Linked DNA regions of Homo sapiens: region 2 is linked to region 1. Evidence: fine-mapped expression QTL. A gene starts in region 1. The other region holds a variant in brackets. All regions are shown on one strand. Distances are from middle to middle.

Region 1 (12,334 bases):
GCCCTACAGGATCTAACACCTGTTAAGGCTCTGACCTCATCGTCTGCTCTCTCCTCCTTTACACTGCATTCCAGCCACACCAATGTTCCGAGTGGTCTTCAAAAATGCCAGGCACTCTCTGGTCTCAGGGTCTCTCAACTTGTTGCCCCCTCTACTAGGAAGTAATCTGTATGGCTCACTTTTTCATTCCCTTCAGGTCTTTACTCAAATAATGTCACCTTCTCAAGGAGGACTTCCCTGGTCACCTGATCAATAACTGCAATGCCTACCCCCTCCCCAGCAATTCCCTTCCCTGATTGATCTTTTCTCCTTAGCATTTATTTATTTATTAAATGCTTTTATAGTGCTCATTATGTACCAGGCCTTGTTCCAAACATTGTACAAATACTAACTTCATTCCCCTAACAACTTACAAGACAGATACTATTATCACAACACTTTATGGATGAGGCAGAGAGGCTAAGTAACTTGTCTAAGGTCACACAGCTCCTGGGAGGGAGAGGTGGGATGCAAGTGTGAGAATCCACCCATCCTTGTCCTCTAACATAATGCGTGTCTTGTGTTTCTCTTTTTTGTCTCTTCCCCCAGAATGGGAGCTCCCCCAGGCCCAGGTTTTGGTCTGCTCAGTTGAGTGCTGCAGTTGTAGCTTTGCAGACCCTAGGAAAGGGACTGGCAAGAAGTCAAGTTTTAGAGTTCTGGGACCCAAAAGGGTTAAGAACTCTACACTAGAGTGACATTTCCAAAACAAACAGGGAATCATAACTCCCCATCCCCCAACTTTTCTCTCTCACTCAGGAAACAGTCAACTCCTTAGGGTGTAAAAGAGGTCCCTCATGATTTAGTCCGGTGCTGTCCAATGAGGCAGCCACTTGCCATGTGTGGTTATTTAAAGTAATTAAATTTAAATAAAATTAAAAATTGAGTTCCTCAGTTGTACTAGCCACCTTTGAAGTGCTTAATAGCCACATATAGCTTCTGCATTAGCCAGTCCACACATAAAACACTGACATCATCGCAGAAAGCTCTTTGCACAGTACTGATCTGGGGCCTATCTTTCTGTCTCATTCCCTGACAGACCCCTCCTACGTACCCTAGGCTCCAGCCACATGAAACACAAGCTACAGATCACTGAAATGCCTCGCATTCCTTGGCATTAGCAGAATGAACCTCTTCCTTGTGTTGTCAGTTGCATTCCTAAGAATCAATGCTGACACAAATCAAGCATGAGTCCTCGGTGAGTTTCCCTAATCCTCATATCCCCAGAGTATTTGCTTATCACAGCAGTGGGCTAAAGTATTATACGTGTGGTTGGCTTCCTCATTACATGACAAGCCCCACTAGGGCAGGGACAGCCTCTTATTCTTCTGTTTCCCCCGTGACCAGTGCCTGCCACACAAATCATGAGTAACTATTGCAGGTTTCACAAATGGCTGGAAATGGGAGACACAAAGATGAATTAGATATAGGCCCAGACCTTAAAGAATCTATAAGGCAGTGGAGGAAATAAAACATACACACAAAGATATTAGAGAGTAAAAAGTATTAATAATGCCTACCTGACAAAGGGGAAAAAATCACTTTAATTAGTTCAAGTTTTAATATGGTGTCCATATTGTACCATGTACCCCAAATTTAGGACAAACAATGTCTGTGATTTAAAAGTTTACACAAAAAGTAAAAAGAAAAAAAAATCAATGATCTAGACGTTTAAATGGATTTTAATGTTTTTATAAAATAGCTACACAAGTTTAAAACTTCTGTGTGCTTAAAACAAACAAAAAAATCCCTCCCTGCTATGAATACACACAACTTGGGAAAAGTACTTGTAAAGTGCATGACAAAGAGTAAATAACCTTTACATAGCCAGTTATTATAAAGAAATAAGAGAAAGACTGAACAGAAAAATGAGCAAAGACAATTTGAGATTATTGAAATAAATCTCATTGAAATGGCTGATAAAATAATCAGTATTCAGATAAATAGAAATAAAAACAGCTATCATATTGACAGACATGAAGGCCTGGTGATACTTGGCTAACAGGGGAAGGGGAAAAGGTCGATGAGTACTGCTGTGAGACTCTGGACAGGCACATCACTAACCTTCTGGGGGTACTGGGGTGACACACACGAACACTTATGCATGCCTATCCTCTGCTCTACCCATCACACTTCCAGAAATTCATCTTTAGGAAGTCATCAGGAAAATTCACTAAAAAATCTATAGGATGGTCATCATAGTATTGTGTGGAACAGCAAAACACTGTTACTAATGTCCACTGTGGGGTACATTTATGCAATGGAATACAATGTGACTATTAAAGGTGATGACATAGATCTATTTATTGACATGAAAACAAGTTCATGATATATTAAGTGAAAAAATGTCCCCATGCATGGGGGGATAAAATGTTAGGAAAGAAACCAAAATATTAACAGTGCTTAGTTATTTCTGGGCAATGAGATCAGGTATCATCTTTATTTTCTTCCCTAGGCTTGCCTATATTTTTCAAAGGACATATATTAATTTTATCATCAGAGGAAATAACAATTTTTAACAAGCTACCTTTGACGGATGAAACCTTGTTTCCAGGATCAAATACTTTTCCGAATATATTGAGAAAGCCTATCTTAAAAGCCTATCAGGACACAGGAATTCCAATCTGAACATTTAAAAAAAACATCAGTGATAGTTGTGTGATAGCTGAACTGAGAACCAAAGAAAAGACAGTTTTATTTAACAGCTTAAAGTCATGGTTAAAGGCAAACTGGTCCTTGAGGAAGAAAGTCAGGACTACGAAGGTGACATGAGGAGTAACAAACCCAACTCCAAATTTCATGGAGTTTGCAGATTGCTACAGAGAAAATACTAATGCCCAGAAAATAGTCAAGATACTAATTAAAGGCAATGTTAAATTACTGGGATTCTTGTTATAAGAGCTCAGAGAAGAGCACAGAGAAGGCTAGCTTTAGCAGGAAAAGATTCCTAGAGGTGGGAGGTCAATTCTAGATGGGGTGAGAAAGAACACACTTCGAAGAGGAAGGTGACCGAGAGAATGATCACAGCGCACTTAGGAAACTTTGTGTCATCTGAGGTTTGTCTCAGGAATTTTTTTTTTTTGAGATATGTGATGATTTTGATCAAAAGGACAAACAGATATTTTAAGTTACAAAGCTTGTGTTTAAAAGCAGAGAAAATAGGACAGCTTATAACTGCTGAAGCACTGTAATTTTAACTCAGGACAAAAGTACAATGGATTATTGCCTAAGAGTTAAATGGTAATTTGATCTTCAAATGTAAACTCCAATTGTCCTTCTAGCTAAGAATCTTCGCACCAGGGCACTGGGAGGCAAATTCAGTAATACCACATAAAACTGACATGTTTTAAAAAAGCCTAAATTGTGTTAGACCTATCACCAGAGAGATGCATTAATTCTCATGATTTCAGCTAGTGGGGCCCTACTTGGCTGAACATTATTGGAATAAAGCCTACAGTCAGGTGTCAATGTCTTTGTCAGTCTCTCACTGACAGTTCTACAGATAACGACGAAAACAATGCAAATCAACCACAAAGGGAAATGGTTCCTCTGGTGGAAAAACACAAGATGCAAGGAAACAGATGTTAGTGAACTCAAATCACAGGCAAACAAAATCACAGAGAAGTCAGCCTCTGGGAGAGCTCAGCTTCTGAATAAGCAAAGGTACCACAGGGAAGGGTACTTCAGAAAAGAATGATTTGAATATCAAAGGATTCAAGAGAACCTGGAAAAATTAAAGATGCTCTCAACCATTCCGGCAGCGTTTTGCAAGAAACAACTGTCTTTCTGAGAGTGAGAGGCTGATGTGGAGGCTGCCGGGTGGCACCGTTACTCAGTAGTGACAAAAGATACATGAAGACAACTTGATTCATTCTTTAAGAAGATATGTATGTAGTTGCATTTATGATCTGTATGTTCAATATTTATCTTACACATTTTAATTTTATTTTTCAATATAAAATCTTAACCTCTTCCTCCCTCTATTAATTTGCAAAATTCTGGTTCCCATTTTAAGTAGTCTTTTTCTGGTCACTTTTCCTGAATTAACTCTGACTTTCCTCAAGTTCCAGTTCCACGTTCCAAGCTCATTGAAGCCCTGTTACTGCAAGCTCAACTAGTCCAACTCTAGGGTTGAAATCTTCTAATGCAAACTCTAATACCACCCTCCAAATTCTCCAGGTCTAAGACGGGTACCACCAATCCCCATTGACCTGGATTACCTGGTTCTCAGCTTTGATTCCCACATCCGGTGTTGACAATCTTCTATCATTCTCCAAGCCAGTCGATTCTTCCTCAGATATCCCTCATATCTAAGATGACCACAGCAGGCACCACTACCTCAAGACAGATCTCTTGGCGACTCACCCACCTTCTGCCTTCACTGTGCACGCCACACTTTACAAGCAACTCTTTGTAAAACACGGCCTTCAAAATATGATCAGCTAAGAACCTTCTGGAAGGCCATGGATCAACACCAAGTTTCCTGTGTGGCACCTGAAACCTTTTATCCATCAACTGGTCCACCTTATCTCACCAACCTATCCTCTCATCAGTCCCAGATACCATCTCTCAGCTCCAGTGCAGCAGGTCTCTCTCTTCTCTCCCACACAAGCTGTCTCCATGCCTGCCTCAGGCATTTACTAACAGCACTTCCTCCGAGCCACCACCGTGTCCTCCTCTCAAGACTACACTTCTTTCAAGGCACAAGTCAACATGTTTCTTTGTCAAGATTTAACCTGTTACACATCCTGATGTTTTCTTACAATTGGAATCGTCTCTTTATTCATGAGTAGTCTATTTTAAATAAACATGCTGAGTAAATACGTAGAGAATATAAATCCTTAGATAAATGTTCATTTTTGTCTCCTTCCTAGACTATATCCTCAAGGGCCTCAGTCACACATTTCCTATTAGAGGTAGAAGAATATAAGCCATAGATTCAACATGCAACAACTACAAGACCTCTGTTAAGGTAAACAGAGAAATAAACGATTCAACTACACGAATTAGTGTTCCATTTTATAATTCTACTATGTCAAACAGAATTAACAAACCTGATACAAAAACATCAAATATATGGTAACACAAATAATATAACTCTTTTAGGCCTCTCTAAAGCTGGATAATTTGGTATTTTCATCACAAAAAGGAGACAACAAAGACTGCAATGCGAAATTAGCCTGGGCTTTGAGTGTCTAATTTAGAATTCTTCCATTACCTCTAGTTTACCTTCTAGCCTGAAAGTTCCTGAATCATAAAGGATCTCTTTAGTTTCCTTCGTGATAAGTGTTCTCTGAAAACGCTCTGCACTAGGGTTCATCTAACTGGGGTCTGAAGCACCCTAAGGGTTCTGGGACACATTCTAGACCATGAGAGAATTGTTCCTTTAAAAGGGGTCCGCGCATTACTCAAGTTCAGAAACAATGCTGTGCATCATCACTTTACTGCCCAATAAGCTCCATTTTTCCAAGAAGAAATCTAACATGAAATCTGGCAAAAGCAAAGCAAAGCGAAAACGACAAGACGAGCGAATGTCATCATTTAAAGCGGCAGGCAGGGCCGGCTGGGTCCCGGGTGCAGCATCCCTGCTGCCCGGTCAAGCTCCGCCCATTCGAGGGGGGGATCCCGAGCGGTCACCCGAGGCGCGCGACCGCCAGGTGTCCCCTGCCAGGGGCTGGGGGAGCGCGCCGGCCGCCAGGGCTCACAGGGGTTGGTCCCGGGGCGCTCGGATGTGGCCGCGCGGCAGGGGAGGCGGGAACCGGTCCGCGGGGCTAAGCAGGCGGCTGTGGGGGCCTGGGGCAGAGAGGCTCGTCCGCGGCCCGCTCGCCGCGCCGCCGGCCCCCGCACTCCAACCCACTCGCCGGCCCCTTCGGCCGCCCGCCCTCCCCTCACCCACGCTCGGAAGGCAACCTCACCTGCTTGGCCGGCCGGGGACCCCGGGAGCGGGGGACCACCAGTGGGCAGCATCACGGCCAGCCGGCTTCCTGGAGGCCGCGCTCCTTTCCTGGAGCCGCACCCCCGCCCGGCCCCCGCCGGCAACACGTCACCGCCTGCGCCCGGAGCGCGCCCGCTGGCGGCGGGAGCGCGCACGCCGAGGGGCGCGTTGAGCGCTGGGGGGCGGAGCCTGATGCGGGATGATTGGCGTCCGAGCGCTGGGCTGTTCCGTGGACCCGCGCGGCCACGCCAGTGTGCTGTGCACGGGAAATGTGGACGTGGGAGCACGGAGGCACCCAGTACTGTGGCGTGGTGCTCGTCTGGTCGTCAGCGAGCCTCAGCGTACTTAGGACACCGCAGTTTATCTTTCCTTAGCGCTCCTAACGGTTATGGAAAATAGCGCTTGAAAACCTGGTAAGGACTAGGCATTGTTGCTCAACTCTTGACATTTACACCTTTGCCGGTAACTCTCCCTGTTTCACAGATGGGGAAACGGAGGCTCACACTTATTCAGTCTCTCTTGAGATCCACCTGATTCGTGAGAGGTAGAGCCAGGATTTCATTCTTGCCCGTCGATGGCATATGTTAGTGCCTATGTTGGGGGAGGCAGACTGCCCCAGCCCTCCCCAACACACGCAATGGTTATGAGAAGAAATAAAGCGAAGGGTGTTCCTGAGATTGACCCCATGACCTACACTTAGTACAAGGCTAAGCTCTCTTAGCTCTCTGGCTTAGCAATAAACTGCTTTGAAGACACAGAACTTTGCACTTGAGAGCCGGAAGAGACCTTGGGAATCCCGGGTTCCATCCTTTCTTCCACCTTGTATACAGGTGAATGCACTGTGGCCCAGAGATAGGAAGTGACCAGCAATCCAGCCACTTTAAAAGATTTTTAAAAACAAGAGCCCTAGAAACGTCTACTCCATTCCATTTATCAAGTAAAACAAGCATAGACAGAACTGGCAGTTCTACATCTTAACACAGAATCCTTCTTGGTCCAGCACCCGCCTGGGTCACCTCCTCTTCCTGGATTCAGCTACTGTTAACGGAAGAAACCATGAAGCCTCAGAAGGTTAGAGCCAAAGGGACTCTACTGTGTAGCCCCAATCACCTTCTTTTACAGTTAAGAGCCTGGAACCCAGAGAGGTTGAGTGACTTGGCCAAGACCCCCTGGAGGCAGAGGAGAGCAGAACCAATGTTTCAGACTCCCACATGACTTGCGCATCAGTGTCTTTTTTTTGACAATCTGTTGCTATAAGAAATTACTCGTTTGGATAATTTTCACACTAGAAAACCCTGTGACCCAAGGCTAGCATTGAGAAGCTAAAGCTGGCCACTGACATACTGTGATTTTAAGGACAGTCTCCTTCGAAATTATCTGCCTTTCAAAATCTTTGCCATTGGAGACACTGGTTGGGGTTATGTTAGTCTTCCTTAAGGAGGGCTCTACTAAAATGCCAGACTAGGCCGGGCATGGTGGCTCATGCCTGTAATCCCAGCACTTTGGGAGTCCAAGGCAGGTGGATTGCCTGAAATTAGGAGTTCAAGACCAGCCTGACCAACATGGTGAAACCCCATCTCTATTAAAAATACAAACACTAGCTGGACATAGTGGCTTTTTTGTGCCTGTAATCCCAGCTACTCAGGAGGCTGAGACAGGAGAATTGCTTGAACCCGGGAGGTGGAGGTTGCAGTGAGCCGAGATCACGCCAATGGACTCCAGCCTGAGCAACAGAGTGAGACTCCATCTCAGAGAGAGAGAGAAGAAAAGCCAGACTAGTAAGTATTATCACACCATCCATATTTCCTGATAATTTATATGTAATAATTGTCTGATAAGAGCTAGGAAAGAAAAATATAGGAAAGTATGGAAACGTGTAACTTGGCATATTACATTCTAGAGCTGCAGTGACAAATTGCCCTAAACTGGGTGGCTTAAAGCAAGATAATTTATTGTCTTCCAGTTCTAGATGGTAGAAGCCTGAAATGAAGGTGTCAGCAGGGCTGTGCTCTCTCTAAAGATCTAGAGGAGGATCCTTCTTTGCCTCTTCCTAGCTTCTGGTGGCTACTGGCCATCCTTGGCCTTCCTCAGCTTGTAGATGCATCACTTTGGTCTCTGCCCCTGTTGTCACATGGTATTATCTCTGTGTGTCTGTGTCTCTGTCTCCAAGTTTCTTTCTTCTCATAAAGACACCAGCCATATTAGATTCAAGGCTCACCCTCATCCAGTGTGATCTTATGATCTCATATTAACTTGATTATATTTGCAAAGATCCTATTTCCAAATAAGGTCACATTCATGGGTTCTGGGTGGACATGAATTTTTTGGGGGTGGTCACTATTCAACTTAGTACATGAGAGGACCATCCTGGTCTGGTTCATCAGGGAGAGCTTCTTTGAGGTAACGCTGTCTGAGGTCACACCTGCACAATGAATGGGAATTTATTAGAATTCTGGGCCTATATGAAGGAATAGTATTTCAGTCAGTGGAAACAGCAAAGAGGCTCTGAAGGGGCCCATTCTCACTTGTTAACAAGAGAAACAAAAACTGGAGCTAGGCTGGGCGCGATGGCTCAAGCCTGTAATATCAGCACTTTGGGAGGCCGAGGCGGGTGGATCACGAGGTCAGGAGATCGAGACCATCCTGGCTAACACGGTGAAACCCTGTCTCTACTAAAAAAAAATACAAAAAATTAGCTGGGCGTGGTGGCAGGCGCCTGTAGTCCCAGCTACTCAGGAGGCTGAGGCAGGAGAATGGCGTGAACCCGGGAGGCGGAGCTTGCAGTGAGCTGTGATCGCACCACTGCACTCCAGCCTGGGCGACAGAGCAAGACTCCATCTCAAAAAAAAAAAAACAAAAACTGGAGCTAACAGGAGGGAACACTTACTAAGTACTTTATGCCAGGCATGGTTGTAAGAACGTTAGAAAACACGGCATACAGAATGATAATGAAACTGCATCAAAATATGTGGAATGCAGTCAGAACAGTCCTTCAAGAGAAATTTATAGCTTTAAAAGTTTATTTTAGTAAAGAAAAAAGGTTTGAAATCAATTATCTAAGTTTCCACCTTATGACATTAGAATAAGAAAGTGAATTAAACTCGAAGTGAATAGGAGGAAAAAAATAATAAAAAATAATATGAGACATTAACCAACTTACAAGTTGGTTCTTTGAAAATATTAACAAAATTGCTAAACTCCTAGTGAGATTGAGCAGGACAAAAAAACACGAATAACAAATATCAAGCATAAAAGAGGAAGATCCCTACAGATATACAGAAATTGAAAATATAATAAGAAAACATTATGAATAACTTTATGCTGATCATTTCGATAATTTACATTAAATGGAAAAAGTCTTTGAAAAATACAACTTCCCAAAACTGGCACAGGAAGAAATAGAACATTTGAATCACCCCATATCTTTAAGGTCCTAAAAAGAAAATTCCAGAGCAAGATGGCTTCACTAGTAAATGTTTATCAATCATTTAAGAAAGGTAATATTGATTTTATATAAACTCTTTTGAAAGAACAAAGGAAGAGAGAACACTTTTTAATTTATAATTCAGAATAATCCTGATACCAAGAAATAAAAAGGAAAGAAAATCACACACCTATATTTCTTACATAGGTGCAAAAATTTTAACAAAATATTGGCCAATCAAGGTCAGGTGTAATGACTCATGTCTGTAATCCCAGCACTTTGGGAGGCCGAGGCAGGTGGCTCACCTGAGGTCAGGAGTTTGAGACCAGCCTGGCCAACATGGTGAAACCCCATCTCTACTAAAAATACAAAAATTAGCCAGGCAAGGTGGTGGGCACCTTTAATCCCAGCTACTCAGGAGGGTAAGACAGGAGAATTGCTTGAACCTGGGAGGTGGAGGTTGCAGTGAGCTGAGATTGCGCCACTGCACCCAGCCTGGGTGACAGAGTGAGACTCCATCTCAAAAAAACAAAAACAAAAACAAAATTGGCAAATCAAATCCAGCGACATCTGAAAGAGCAAGATAGCATTACCAGGTGGGATTCTTTTTTGAGGAATGCAAAATTGGCTCAACATTTGAAAATCAATCAATGTCATTCACTACATAAACAGAATAAAGAAGAAAATTCATATGATTCGTATGATCTCAGTCAATGCAAAAAAAAATTTGGCAAAATTCAACACCCATTCATAATTTTGAAAAAAAGCCTTTATCAACTATAAAGGGTATGATTTTCCTCAGCTTGATGGAGCATCTACAAAGAATACAGCTATCATGGTTGTAAAATCAAAGTAACTCATTTTGTGCATGGGACTTTAAAAGTGTTAAATGAAATATTGAACAAATATGTGATACCTGGAGATACATGACCATTTTGCAACCATGGGACAACAGTCATCCTGATAAGAGCCAACAATAAATACGATGGAACTGAAAGATAGAACTGTTTGGGTCCATGATGGCATCATTAAACCGCTGAACTAGTACCAGTGACTGTGTCTACCCCCTGACTTCTTATTAGGAGAGAAAAATAAGCTCTTTATTTGTTTAAATTTCTTTTGGTTGGATATTCCATTACTTGTTGTTAGGTCTTTAAAAATATTTGTTGACTGGTTGGGTGACTTGCTCAAGGTTATAAAACTAAATGGGAGACAGGATGACTTAATGTAAAAAGTACCAAGCCGGGAGGCAGGAAACCTGAATCCTTATCCTCAATAGACTGTGTAAGCTTAGAAATTGTAGTTTGCCTTACTGGTCCTCACCATCCATATATAATTTGTAAAAGGAAAGGGGTTTGTGGAGATGGCTAAGCTGACCTTTAACGTTCTTTCCAGGTCTAAAATCTATGATTTCTAAGAGGCAAAAGAGAAGACTAGAAGTAAGATTTTCCCTTTCTCTCTTCTCCTTTCCCTCCCTGCTGTGGTCTGAATGTGCCGCCCAGTTTTCATGTGTTGAAACGTAATGACCAATGTGATTAGCATTAAGGGGTTCTGCCTCTCAGCATTAATTAAGTCATGAGGGTGGAGCCCTCATGGGTAGGATTAGAGACCTTATAAAAGGGCTTGAGGAAACGTGTTTACTCTCTTCTGCTCTTCTGCCCTGTAAGTACTTAGCACTCAACCCCTTTCTGTCTTTCCATACCTTCTGTCAGATGAGGATACCTATATAGCTCAATCTTTGAGGAACAGGTTTTTACCAGATAGAAAATGTGCTTTGGACTTCCCAGCCTCCAGAACTGTGAGAAAATATATTTCTGTCCTTTATAAATTATCCAGTCTGTGGTACTTTGTTATAGTGGCACAAATGAACTAAGACAGTCTCTTCTTCTCCCTCTTTTTTTCCGTCCTTCTCTTTCTTCTTCTTCTTCTTTTTTTTTTTTTTTTTTGAGATGGAGTCTAGCTCTCTCACCCAGGCTGGAGTGCAATGGCACATTCTCAGCTTACTGCAAGCTCACCTCCTGGGTTCACGCCATTCTCCTGCCTCAGCCTCCCGAGTAGCTGAGACTGCAGGAACCCACCACCAGGCCCGGCTAATTTTTTTGTATTTTTAGTAGAGACGGGGTTTCACCATGTTAGCCAGGATGGTCTCGATCTCCTGACCTCGTGATCCGCCCGCCTTGGCCTCACAAAGTGCTGGGATTACAGGTGTGAGCCACCATGCCCGGCCTCTTTCTTCTTAAGAAACAAAACATAAGGACCAGGCACAGGGGCTCATGCCTATAATCCCAGCACTTTGGGAGGTGAAAGTGGGAGGATTGCTCGAGCCCAGGAGTTTGAGGCTGCAGTGAGCTGTGATCGCACCACTGCACTCCATCCTGGGTGACAGAGCAAGATCCTGTCTCCAAAGAAAACTTAAAAAAAAAAAAATCAAACATAAGATAGAAGACCTCTTTCCTTCTCTTGTTGAACTTGAGATTTCTTTGTAACAGTGTATATGGGAATGTTGATGAATGGAGTAGGGCAGATGAACAACCATCAATATCTAAAACCCAATTATGATTTCTCTTTAATTATCTTTCTAGAAAACCCTCTAACATGGCAATTGCTTGAAATTCTGCTCTCCAAATGTTTTAATCCATCATTCCAAGGAAGCTAAATTGGCTCACCTGTCCCTCCTGGCTGTGTGTGGGTGTTTGGGGAAGGTAACCATGCTAGATGTCAGGAAACAAAGGAATCCTGCAGCGCTTGGAAATGGGGAGTTCTCTTACTCTTCCTTGGACCTGTTTGCTTTCCAAGACATTCATGCACAGACTATTTTTGAGTGGCTTGGCTAATAATCCTATATATTTACACAGCCTTTGTCTTCAGGAAATCATGTCACTTTACAGGCATGGTCTCATTTATGAGCCCAGCATTCCTAAGGCAAAGGGATTTTTATT
Region 2 (12,334 bases), 31 kb before region 1:
CTGTGTTTCGGCAAGCTCAAGCATCTCATGCACTTCTGCACCAAAATACTTCCACCCTTACTCGCATGTTCCATTTATCTCATAGCCAAGCTAGGGCTATAATACAAGCCTGTCCTACTTGCCAGCATGTCCCTGGAACTATACCTGTAGAAGGCTGTAACCCACGAAGTTTGGCTCCAAATGAAATTTGGCAAATGGATGTTGCACACATAGCAACCTTTGGTAAGCTTAGCTACGTTCATGTGACTATAGACACTTATTCTCATATGCTGCATGCTACATGCCAAACAGGTGAGACAGCTGGTCATGTATGGCCACATTGTCTGTCATCATTTGCTCACATGGGGATACCTAAACAATTAAAAACTGACAATGGACCCACTTATACTAGTCATGCTTTTCAAAATTTCTTACAGCTTTGGGCTATAACCCATAAAACAGGAATTCCTTATAATCCTAGAGGACAAGGCATTATAGAGCAGGCACATCAAACATTACAACGCATATTGAAAAAACAAAAAGGGGGTATAGGAGACCAACTACCACCTCAATCAAAACTACATTTAGCCTTACTTTAAATTTTCTGACTCCTGGTATGGAAGGTAAAGACTCCAGCAGAAAGACATTGGCAAGTGTTAGAGGAAAAGAGGAAAGTTTATCCGAAAGTGTTACGGAAATCCCCGGAAGAAGGCCAATGGAAAGGTCCAGTGGATTTACTAATGTGGGGAAGAGGGTATACTTGTGTTTTTGCAGGAGATGGATGAACTGTGTGGGTGCCCTCAAGGTGCGTGCGACCATGGAATGGGAGACTGGAGGAACCCAGGGTGGCCAACCATGGACCCGGTCCCGGTATGAGCCATGAGTCAGCTGAGCCTGAATGCAAAGACGGAGAGAAGGCCGACCGGAGTCACAACACAGTTCTAAGGTTACATTTGTAAAGAATATCATCACTCAATTTACAGTTTGTGTTTTTAATCCTTATGTCTTTTTGGCAGCTAAGAAGGACCAGCTCCAGGTAAACAATACCCAATTGACCTGTAAATCTTGCCAGTTATATCACTGCACTAATCATAGCACATTGCAAACACATAATATCTCTACTGTGATGATTTTAGGTGGTATCCCTGGGCTAGGGATTCCTGTTAATCTGTCTGAGCCTTGGGCTGCCACACCTGCTTTGCATTTTGTGAAACTTCTAACTCAGCTGACTCATCGTGCCCGTAGAGCCTTAGGCATGATAATTTTTGCTACTGTTTACTTGGTCATGCTAGTAACTTCTGTTGTGATATCTTCTGTAGCTTTGCATAATTCTATTCAAATAGCTCAGTACGTGGAGAACTGGACGCGCACAGCTGACCAAGCGTGGCGACTTCAGAATAAAATTAACACTGAGCTACAAACTGAAGTGGCAATGCTGAAATCCACGGTTCTGTGGTTAGGGGCACAAGTACAAAGCTTGCAGTTGCAGCAGTAATTGCGCTGTCATTTTAATCACACTCATATTTGTGTAACCAACTTAGAATACAACCAAAGTGAGTATCCGTGGGACCTTGTGAAAGCCCATTTGCAGGGAGCGTTCACATCCAACATCACCTTTGATATTGGTGAATTACAAAACAAAATTCTTGATTTAAATAGGCAAACTCAAGAATTTCAGCCTTCTTTAGAAGACGGGACCAAATTCCAGCAAGGCCTGGAGAGCCTCAACCCTTGGACCTATCTAAGGCACCACATTAACATCTTATATGTAGTTCTTGGAATAATGTTGTTTCGTCTCTGTCTTCTGTTTATAGTCTGTAAAATCGGATGGACTGCCAATCGGAGAATGAGAGCTGCCCAGCCTGGCCTTACATTTTTTCAATTAATTCATAAACAGAAAGGGGGATATGCAGGGAGCCGAAGGCCCATGGGATGTGACCAACGCAGCATTCCACTGGAGGCTATATGATCCAACAGCAAACTGTTTATCATGAATGCAGGATGTGAGAAAACTGACGACTGCTCCTGCCGACAGAAGGTTTGCTGGAGGCAATCACTCCCTGGCGCTGAGGTTATCTACTGCAACATTTAGCCTGTTGTTCGAGGAATGCAGTCTTGCAAGCCTGCTCTAGACTGAGCAGCTGACCCCTTCTTCCACCCCGCTTCTCACTATCTCTTTTGCCTAATAAATAAGGAGGGCTGTATAAAGCTCAGGGCCCTTGTCCACTAGGGGCAAGGTACCCCCTGACCCCTTCTTCAAAATATACTCTTTTGTCTCTTGTCTTTTATTCCCGTGTTTGCCCCGCTTTGTTCAGTCCCCCTAGGTCCGTGCAGGTTACAGTGGAATCCGTATTCACGTGCATATTCTGGCTCATTTCATACTACAGAAGCAGTGAGGTGAGTTTTGGACAGAAGTCATGTGGCCTGCAAAGTTAAAATGTTTATTATCTGGCCCTTTAGAGAAAAAAATTGCTGCCTGGTCTGAAGCGGCATTTTTCAAATGTGAGCATGCATTATGAGTGACCTGGAAGGCTGGCAAAATGAAGAATTTGATTCAAGAGGTCTGAGACCAAGCCTGAGATCCAGCACTTCCGTCAGGCTTCAGTGATGTTGATGCTGCTGATTCAAGGACCACACTTTGAGAAGCAAGTACCGAGAGCAGCTCCGTCTGACGGAAATATACTGTGAGCCACACAGGCAATTTAGAGTTGTCTAGTGTACACATTAAAAAGGTAGAAGGAAACAGGTGATGTTAATCCAATAATATTTTATTTAACTCAATATACCTAAAATATTGTCATGTCTCATGTACCCAATGTAAAGAAACTGAGATATTTCATATTTTTTTTACATGAAGTCTTTGAAATCTGGTGTGTCTATATCTATATATAGACAGACAGATATAGATATATATTTTTTTGAGACAGAGTCTCACTCTGTTGCCAGGCTGCAGTGCAGTGGGGAGATCTCAGCTTACTGCAACCTCTGCCTCCCGGGTTCAAGCGATTCTCCTGCCTCAGCCTCCCGAGTAGCTGGGACTACAGGCGCCCACCACCATGCCTGGCTAATTTTTGTATTTTTAGTACAGACGGGGTTTCACCATATTTGCCAGGATGGTCTCAATCTCCTGACCTCGTGATCCGCCCGCCTTGGCCTCCCAAAGTGCTGGGATTACAGGCATGAGCCACTGTGCCCGGCCTGAAATCTGGTGTATATTTTATACTTACAGCTCATCTCAGTTTAGATTGGCCTGTTTCATGTGGCTAGTGGCCGTCATACTGGACAGTGCAGCTCTAGAGTACAGAATGGAGCCAGGCTGCCTGCGTTCAAATCCCAGCCCCACCACTGGCTAGTTCGGTACCTTGGGCAAGTTGTGTGCCTTTTCCACATCTGTTTCTCCACCTGTAAAGTGACGGTAATCAAAGCACCTCCTCATGGTGTCATTTTGGGGACTGACATGGTTAGGCTTTGTGTCCCCACCCAAATCTCATCTTGAATTATAATCCCCACAATCCCCACATGTCAAGGGGGAGACCAGGTGGGGGTAATTGAATCATGAGAGTGGTTTCCCCTGTGCTGTTCTCGTGATAGTGTTCTCAGGAGATCTGATGGTTTTATAAGTGTTTGGTAGTTCCTTCTGCATTAATTCTCTCTCCTGCCACCTGCCAAGGTGTCTTGGTTCCCCCTCTTCACCTTCCGCCGTGATTGTAAGTTTCCTGACGCCTCCCCAGCCATGCTGATCTGTGAGTCAATTAAACCTCTTTCCTTTATCAATTACCCCGTCTTGGGAAGTTCTTTATAGCAGTGTGAAAACGAACTAATACAGGGATTATGTAAGCTAACAAAGAGCTAGAACAGTGCCTGGCGTGTAATAAGCTATCTTTCTGTTATGATGACGGTTCTGCACAAGAAGCACCTTCTTTCCCTCTAATAAAGCAAGGAGGTGGTGCCATCTTTCCTGCCCCCATCCCTGGGGCCAGACTGTGGAGTTTAGCATGCTCTCTCAGTTCTCAGCCTGGTCATTCCCCCTCGCTTTAAGGATCCTGCCTTGTTCATTCATTCCACAGATATTTATTGAATGTCTACCGCCTATCAGATCCTGTGCCTGGGGATACAACATGAAAACACACAGACAAAAGCCCCCTGCCCCCTGGCTCATGTTCTAGTAGGGTAATAGGGAGAGTCGTACATAGAACGTAATGAAAACAGAGTGTACTAGATCTAAGGTCATAAGCATCATGGGGGAAAGTGAAGCAGGGTGAGGGGGATGGAAAGTCCTGAGAGGGCCCTGAGGCCAGGGTGGCTGGAGCGGAGTCTCGGAGAAATGAGGACTGCGGTCAGAGAGGTGTGGAGTGGGAGGCCACGGTGCAGGGCTGTCTAGGCCATTATAAAGACTTCAGTTCTTCCTGAGTCAAATACAGAGCCGAGTGGAGAGCTTTTGCCTAACAACTTCAAGGTCTGAATCACAGCTTATCAGGCTGCCGTGCTGAAAACAGCCTGGGTTGGGTTGGGGTGGGGTAACCAATCAACCTCCCTGGCCCTGAATTGAGGGGCTCACTGGGATGTGAGGTCACCCTAAAACAAGGAAATCAGTTTTATCTTTTCTCCTCCTTTCATAAATAATCTGTGTCCCCATAACGTCCATTTTAATGTATTTGAATCAAAATATGCACATCCTCATAGGACATACAGTGCCGTATGCCCTACATTAACATAATGGCATTATACAACAATTCTCATGTCTTGCTTTCAGTATTCAACACTATTTTTAAGAGCCACCCGCTTGCTGTTCATAGTTCTAGGTCTGTCTCTCATGGCTATACAGTATTCCATGGTACGCACCTGCCGCCTTTGACTTGTCCAAGACCTTGCTTGCCTCCATCAACACAGTCACTCAGAATCATTACCAAGGAATCCTTCCGTAAGTCCATTCATGGACCCAGGTAGAAATCTCTCCGGAGAGCCACGCGCAAGTGGCTCTCTGAATCAAAGGGCACACACGCTGCTAACTTTTAAGCTGCCAGCTTCCCTTCTGGGGTACGCATTGCAGTTTGCACCACCACCAGCAATATTGAAGTCCAGGCCCCGCATCACTGCCAGCACTTGAAGTCTGGCAATTCTGAGGGGCATAAGGTAGTGGGTCTTAATTTACATTTGCATTTCTTCAGCTTAGTTTATCTCTTGTTCACCATTTGGGTTTCCCCTGCTGTGAATCACCTATTAATATCCATGGCCGGTTTTTTCTTTTGGATTTCCTTTTTCTTGTTGTTTTGCATGAAACTTTGTACATTTTAATCCCTTTTCAATTTCAGTCACTGCAAATACCTTCTTAGTCTGCCATCTGTTAGCTTTGATGAACAGAAAGTCTTACTTTAGATGTAGTCAAATCCATCCTTTCCCCCTTACATTTGGTGCTTCTTGTGAGGTTTAAAAAGTGACTTTTAAGGACAACTTAGAATGAAAAACAATCTGAAGCTATGTTTAGAATAAAATAAATATGCAGGAATTATTTTCTGTAAGCAGGGCTTCAGAAAATATCAATCTCACTTTGCCTCTATTATTACTACCTAATTCTGGGATTTCTTTTTCCTTTCTGTCAAGGCTGAACAGGTTGCGAAAAAAGGAAACCACTTGAGGTAAACTTGGTTTTCCTAAGTTTTTCTAAATAAAGCTTTAAAATGCAACACTCCCTTAACAAACTCTGGTGGAGGGAAGTGAACAGAGAACTGAGACTCAGAGGCCTGGGTTCCATCCCGCCCTTCACGGCACATTGCATATGGTTTTAAAACCACACACAACTCTGCACATCTGGAAAGAACAGCAAAAATTGAGAATAAAATATATATATATTTTAGACAGAGTCTTGCTCTGTCGCCTAGACTGGAGTGCAGTAGCACAATCTTGGCTCACTGCAAACTCCGCCTCCT[G/T]GGTTCAAGTGATTCTCCTGCCTCAGCCTCCTGAGTAGCTGGGACTACAGGCGCCCGCCACCTTGCCCAGCTAATTTTTGTATTTTTAGTAGAGACAGGGTTTCACTATGTTGGCCAGGCTGGTCTCAAACTCCTGACCTCGTGATCCGCCTGCCTTGGCCTCTCAAAGTGCTGGGATTACAGGCGTAAGCCACTGCACCCGGCCTAGAATAGATTTTAAAAGATTTCTTTCATAAATTTTAGAAACCTAAAGAGGTGATTTGTGAAAGAAACCAGATTTTCATTAGTTTACAAATATTTACAAAATACTATGTACTACTCGGTGTCTTCTTTACTGGATTATAAATGTAGAAACATGGAAAGTAAACACAGGACCTGTCATGGTCCATGTTCAAGGACATTTGGGCCAGAAATAGATACACTGATGGAAAACAGGGCCACGGGAGGTGGGAGAGAATTTAAACGTGTAATTTGAACATTAAACAGCCAGGAACTTCCAGAAAATTCTCTTGTGCTGCCATGACCAGTATCAAAGAACTTTACAAGGCTGAGGAGAGCCCACCAAATGTTTTAAGTGTTTTGAGTCTAAAATCTGGGTATTAAAGCTTGGGCCAAGTGGGAGAAAAAGCAATCTTAGGAAAAGAAAGTGCTAAGTCTGGTCCCTGGAGTTTAAGGCTTGTGTAATGACAGGCAAGAATAAGGTGATTAGGCCCGGTGCGGTGACTCACGCCTGTAATCCTAGCACTTTGGGAGGCCGAGGCAGGTGGATCACGAGGTCAGGAGATCGAGACCATCCTGGCTAACACGGTGAAACCCCGTCTCTATTAAAAATACAAAAAATTAGCTGGGTGTGGTGGCAGGCGCCTGTAGTCCCAGCTACTAGGGAGGCTGAGGCAGGAGAATGGCGTGAACCCGGGAGGCGGAGCTTGCAGTGAGCCGAGATCGCGCCACTGCACTCCAGCCTGGGCGACAGAGTGAGACTCCGTCTCAAAAAAAAAAAAAAAAAAAAAAAAAGATGATTAATATTTTCAGAACTGTCCACTTCAAACTCTGATTCTCATGAAGGCAAAAAGGGTGAAAGGTAGTATTCACACTCCCAATTAGAAGCCTGAGAGAACAGCAAGAACAGCTGGCACAAGGATGTTGTAGAAATAACACAAGAGAAGACCCACACTGGGGATTCTAAAGCTGCTCCTTTGTGTTTCGATGGCGTTGCCACCGACAAACCTTTCCCCTTCCAGTCACACAGGGGCCACTGGAATCCCAATCCCTTGACAAAACACCAGATGCCTGAGATGTTTATTTGATGACTGGTTGAACGGGAGGAAAAAAACTCCTTTTCTCTCGTCTTTGGAGTTCACCTACTTAAACAAGAAGTCTGTCTTTTGTGCCTGTCACCATCGTGTTCTGTGAGGAGGTTTCAGTCCTTTACTCAAGGCAGAAATCCTTCTTAAGCCTTGATTTTCTTGTTTGGGCCTCTTACATGAAACAGACACAGGCTGTTGACAGAAATGTTGAAGTGGCCATGAAGTCTGGAGCCCGGATGTCGTTCACCTGCCAAACAGTGTCAAGGGTGAAAGGCAAAGATCGAAGGCCAAAGTGCCCCTAGCGTCCCCTGCAGCAGGTCTCAGTCAACCTTAATAGATCTATTAATAGAAAGAGGCTGGACTGCGCAAGGGCAGGGGGACTAGCCTGGCTAAAAGCAAAATAAAACACATCAACAGACACACTCTTCTTTTGTTAGGAGGAGGTGGGATCACAGGCCCACATGCTCCCAGACGAGGTGGGGCCAGGAAGACTCTCACAGGATTGCCTTTCATGCTGCCACGGATGGATGCTCCAGGCAGATCCACTCTGCCAAGGCGTGCTTTGGGATTAGCCGGGCACTCCTTTGTCTTTTCATGACGTTTCCAAAAGAAGACACTGTGACTCTGACAGAGGTGACCTGCACCTCACGACCCCCTCTGTGCAAACCATTAGCATTTCCGGATCTCAAAAAAACCAAAAAAACCCACAGGGCACATGCCAATTCATAGGACAAATGGAAACAGACTGAAAACAAAAACACAGAACCATGGCTTTTCAGACCTGTCAACATGGTTAGTGTTGGAAATAGGCACTGACTTCTCTTCCACCAAGTGGAATAAAAATTTAGATGTCTTTTAACATCTTAGATATTTTAACGTATTTAAAGTCAGGCAAAAAGCCCTATAGTCATTGCACTGCCTCAAAAATTATTTACGACAGTTCTATCTTAATGCTGTGTCCTGTTTTCCTAGCGATCAATGGCTTGAGGACCTCCCTTGAGCTCACTTTGCTGGCTCTGTTCTCTCATTTTGTTTTTGCGCTTCCCTCTCCTCTCCGGCATGTCTCAGGCCTTTATTTTTGTTGGTCCTAACAGCTGGTCCCCTTCCCTTCCCATCTGTCTCTATCATCTATTTTCAGGTTATGGCTCAGGCCCACCTTCCTGCTCCAGGAGAACATCTATGTATTCTCCAACGGCTGAGAAACATGCTGAGCGTCTAATGTCATCCTCCATATTGGTAACACGTAACATTAATAATGACAGTCATAATTTTCTGGAAGTAAGCCAAAGGTTCTAAGCTTAGATCGAACTGCAAAACAGTGTAACATAAAGTCAGCATTTGCTGTTACTATTAAATACATAAAAATTGGTTAATTTTATTACTTTTCCTTGTCTATATACAAGTAGGTACTTAAAATGGTGACCTTATAAACAGTCATCTCAGAGTGGCAATTATTGTTGGTGAATGGCTTAACGTCGTGGGTTGGTCACTACTTGTGAAATATCTGCTTTCTGAGCTGCAGAGAGTGTGGACGCCCTCTCCACAACCCCACACAATTGTGCTTCACTGTATGCACACCCAACACAACACATGCAAAGAGTGTGCGTCAGACTCAGACAATGTATTTCACTGAATTTGGACTCAAGTTCAACTCATCATTCTAATGAGTAAGAAGATTCAAAGATGACAAGGAAGCAAGCCCACACAGTCTACGGGCCATGGGATGATGAACTTTCGTTTTATTGATTTTTCAGTACCCAAGTGTGGCACTGTAAGGCTGCCACATACAGCAAGTGACATGACACCAAAAGGACCTTCCGAGAGTATTATTCTTACTTTGGATGGAAGACATCGCTTAAACAAAAAACATTTAAAGATGCTCCCTTGCTTTTTATAATTCCTAACTGTAAAATATAATTTTAGTACAGAACAAACAAATTCTCCTTGGTTGGTCACATCATTCATTATTGAAAGGGAAACTTAGTATCAAAAGAAACAAAACACTGAAATAAATAACTAAGTAATTTACTGAAAGGTAGTTTTGTTGCATTGCACACAACTGACCGCAGAGAATTCTAAAGCTGATTTTTTTCTTAAAGGATGAAAAACTCATTTGCCATTTTTAGTTTCTTGCTAAGTGATACATGCTCCTTATAAGGAAAACTACTCTGTGTAGGCCTGAGTTTAAAATGTAAATATCTGTTTATCCAGAGTTTGTTAATCTAGAGTACACAGATGTGGAAAACTGGTGGTGAAAAGAGGGACCTACCCAGCCTTCAGGGTGGCTGGGCAGGGGCCCCATGTTACTGGCCTCAGCCACCAGCAGCGTCTTCACTCCGCCCAGGTCAGAAAGCACTGCCTAAAGCCGGAGCTTAGGATGAACATGGGCAAAAAGCACTGGTACAGTTCCATGTGTTTCTCTTCTACTGTAATGTCCCCAGAGGGATTGTGAAATGTCTGAGAACATCCCCTGGAGGAGGTTTAAAAGTGAGAAGCCCATGATATGGCTATGGAACATAAGCACTTATTGCTGGCATGTTTCTACCAAGATTGAACACAATGCTTTTCTTTGATAAAGCTTTGGGCAAGTTCCTAGTCCAATTTCTTCTGCTACAAGTACACAGAATTTACTGCCTTCTTGGTCAGCTCTTGGTATGAATTCTTCTCTTGAATTAAGATCCTCCCTGGCTTGTCTCTCACCCACCCTGTATCTCTTAGAGAAAGCACCTGGCTGTCTTCACCTACGCGAGACCTTCTCTGGAATGTGATTTGCTGCGACTGCAGACATCTCCATACGGCATAATGAACTCCCTTGAGTGGTCTCTTTTTAAACAATTTTGGGTGAGGGGCAGGTTTCTTGGTTTGTTTCAAAACTCATCTTGAAAATAATCTAGACGGAAAAATCCGAAGTGAAATTCTGGTGCAACAAATATTTTAAGATTGAAGTTTGGTTACTTCTCTTGTCCATCTTTTCGTGCCCACAAATGGAAACTACATTCCTGATTTAAGAGGATGCTTCTGTCTGTATCCTTTTTTGAACTGCATTGTTCTCACAAGGACCAGCAAACTTTTTCTGTAAATATTTTAGTAAATATTCTAGGCTTTACAGGCCACATATAGTGTCTGCTGCATATTCTTCAACGTTTTTTCTTAGGCAACTGTTTAAAAATGGCAAATCCACTACTACCTCTCAGCTGGAGCAATGAGGTTTTCTCAGCCCTTGTTTCAGGATCCTCAGGTATGTGACTAACTCTTCTATGCCCAGAGCTGGAAGGCGGGGTCCCCTAACTCCCTGGGTGCCCACCTGCCCACTTCAACCATTTGTGGCCCCTTCCTTTCCTTTCTTCCCTCTCTGCTGCTGACACCAGTGGCTCCATCGCCAGCTCCCTGCAGCCTCCACCAATAATCCATGGCTCCTCCAGGAAGTGTCGCAGGCAGGTGGCCAAGACCAACTTATTAGGTAGCCAGAAGCTCACCCCTTTCTTAACAACTTTGACCACGAAGCGCAAATACGATGCAGGTAAATCCAGAGGCAGAGCCTGGGTCCCCAGGCTGCTGGTAACACGCTTTGAAATCCAGGTGAGGGAGCCATGCCCCCACAGCTCTTGCCTCAAGGATCAGATGCATTTTACCTTCCAGAGACGCAGGTTAAGCTGCACCTGAGGCAGTTTGAGCCACAACTGGGACAGAATTCCCTTGGTCTTCTCTTCTGATCCCTCAGCAGAACTGCCCCTAATGCTCAGTTCATGGCAATACAGGCCTTTTCTCTCCTGTTTCTCCAAACTCTCCCAGCCTCTGCCCAGTACCTAGTTCCAAAGCCACTTTTATAATATCCTCAGTTATCTGTTATAGCAACAACCCCACTTCTGGGTACTAATCTGCTACCAACTACAGGAATTTAACTGTTCTGGAGTTAGGGAACAGCACACACAGACACTCGCACAAAACAAACTCCACCTAAAAAAACTGTACGAGAATTCCCCAAACTTCTCAACTAAATAAATAGGTGAAAAAACACCAATCTCACATATGCCAATCCAATTGTCCTTTTTAGATTTTGGCTTAAATTGTCGAATTTTTTCCTTCAAAATGTGAATTTATTTCCTGTATTGGATGCAGACTCTTCCCTTCTGGATTTACAGTGGTGCTGCCAGCAACAGCCTCAGTCAATGCGGTTAGGAAGAGGACTCGGCAGGCTGTGCATGGGGTCTCCCAGTACGATTAAAAGCTGAGATGACTTTTAATTAAGGGGGGTGGGGGAAACACCAATTGGAAGCTGGAAGAAACTGAGGCACGATTAAGCAGAAACACTGAGGAATACTGAGCAAGAAGTGGGCATGTGCTCTAGTTCCAATAAAACCGAAACTGGTGAAACTAGGAATTTCCAATTCTTTCAAAACCACAGTGTTCTAATGCCACTGAAATATGGAATAAGGAGCGTAATTACCTGCGGTCAGGAAAAGATAACAGTAACGAGGATTTTTCTAAATAAAATGTACCAGTAAATTCTGAAGTGTGTGTTTTTAAAGAACCAGCATTGCCTCCCCTCACGCTGGTTTCTTGGGATTTTTCACACACTCGCACAAAGCTGTAGTCGATAGTTCACTATCACTTTTATAAATGGTTATCTCCTGGTGCCCATGTTTCTCTGTTTTGGATATAAATGGTTTAAAAAATTTAAATTTGCAAAGAAAACATATACAGTAACAGACCTGAACAATAAATAAAAAAAAAAATCACCCTCTTCAGGTTAGAGCTTTCAAGATAGAGAAAAAAGAGGATTATCATTTCAGGCAGTAAGTTTTTTGGTTCTATGAAAGCATCACTATTCAGTCCCCTCTCCACTGACAGAATGCATCTTTCCACCTCCCTCCAGTATCAAAGTGCATGTGTTTAAATTTAACATTCCTTAGAGAAACCCCAGAAATCTCATTTATTTTTGGCAGATATCCTGTGCAGCAAAAATCAAGTGAATTTCCCTCTTCCCCACTCCTCAATTTAATGCTGTACTCAAAATGGCTAAACGCAATACTTCTAGACAGCAGGGCTTATAAACAATGCATTTTTTTTTTTTGAGACGGAGTCTCACTCTGTCGCCCAGGCTGGAGTGCAGTGGTGTGA

The links. PIP is the estimated chance that this variant, and not a neighbour inherited with it, causes the effect.
Region 2: its variant is fine-mapped to the expression of ENTPD4 in whole blood (TOPMed, PIP 0.93).

Annotation. Positions count from the first base shown.
Region 1 is chr8:23,451,606-23,463,939 of GRCh38, forward strand. ENTPD4 (ectonucleoside triphosphate diphosphohydrolase 4) reads right to left here and starts at 6,042. Exons shown (of 13, transcript NM_004901.5): 1 at 5,952-6,042. It overlaps ENTPD4-DT (ENTPD4 divergent transcript), which reads left to right and starts at 6,166. Exons shown (of 5, transcript NR_186533.1): 1 at 6,166-6,384; 2 at 7,609-7,749. RefSeq lists silencers at 1,031-1,325, 5,576-6,255 and enhancers at 1,153-1,859, 3,209-3,710.
Region 2 is chr8:23,420,230-23,432,563 of GRCh38, forward strand. It overlaps ENTPD4 (ectonucleoside triphosphate diphosphohydrolase 4), which reads right to left. Exons shown (of 13, transcript NM_004901.5): 13 at 8,933-12,334. Among named protein-coding and RNA genes, the nearest start is that of LOXL2, 22 kb to the left of the region's middle. RefSeq lists an enhancer at 1,993-2,493. The variant G/T (reference allele first, on the strand shown) is at 5,907.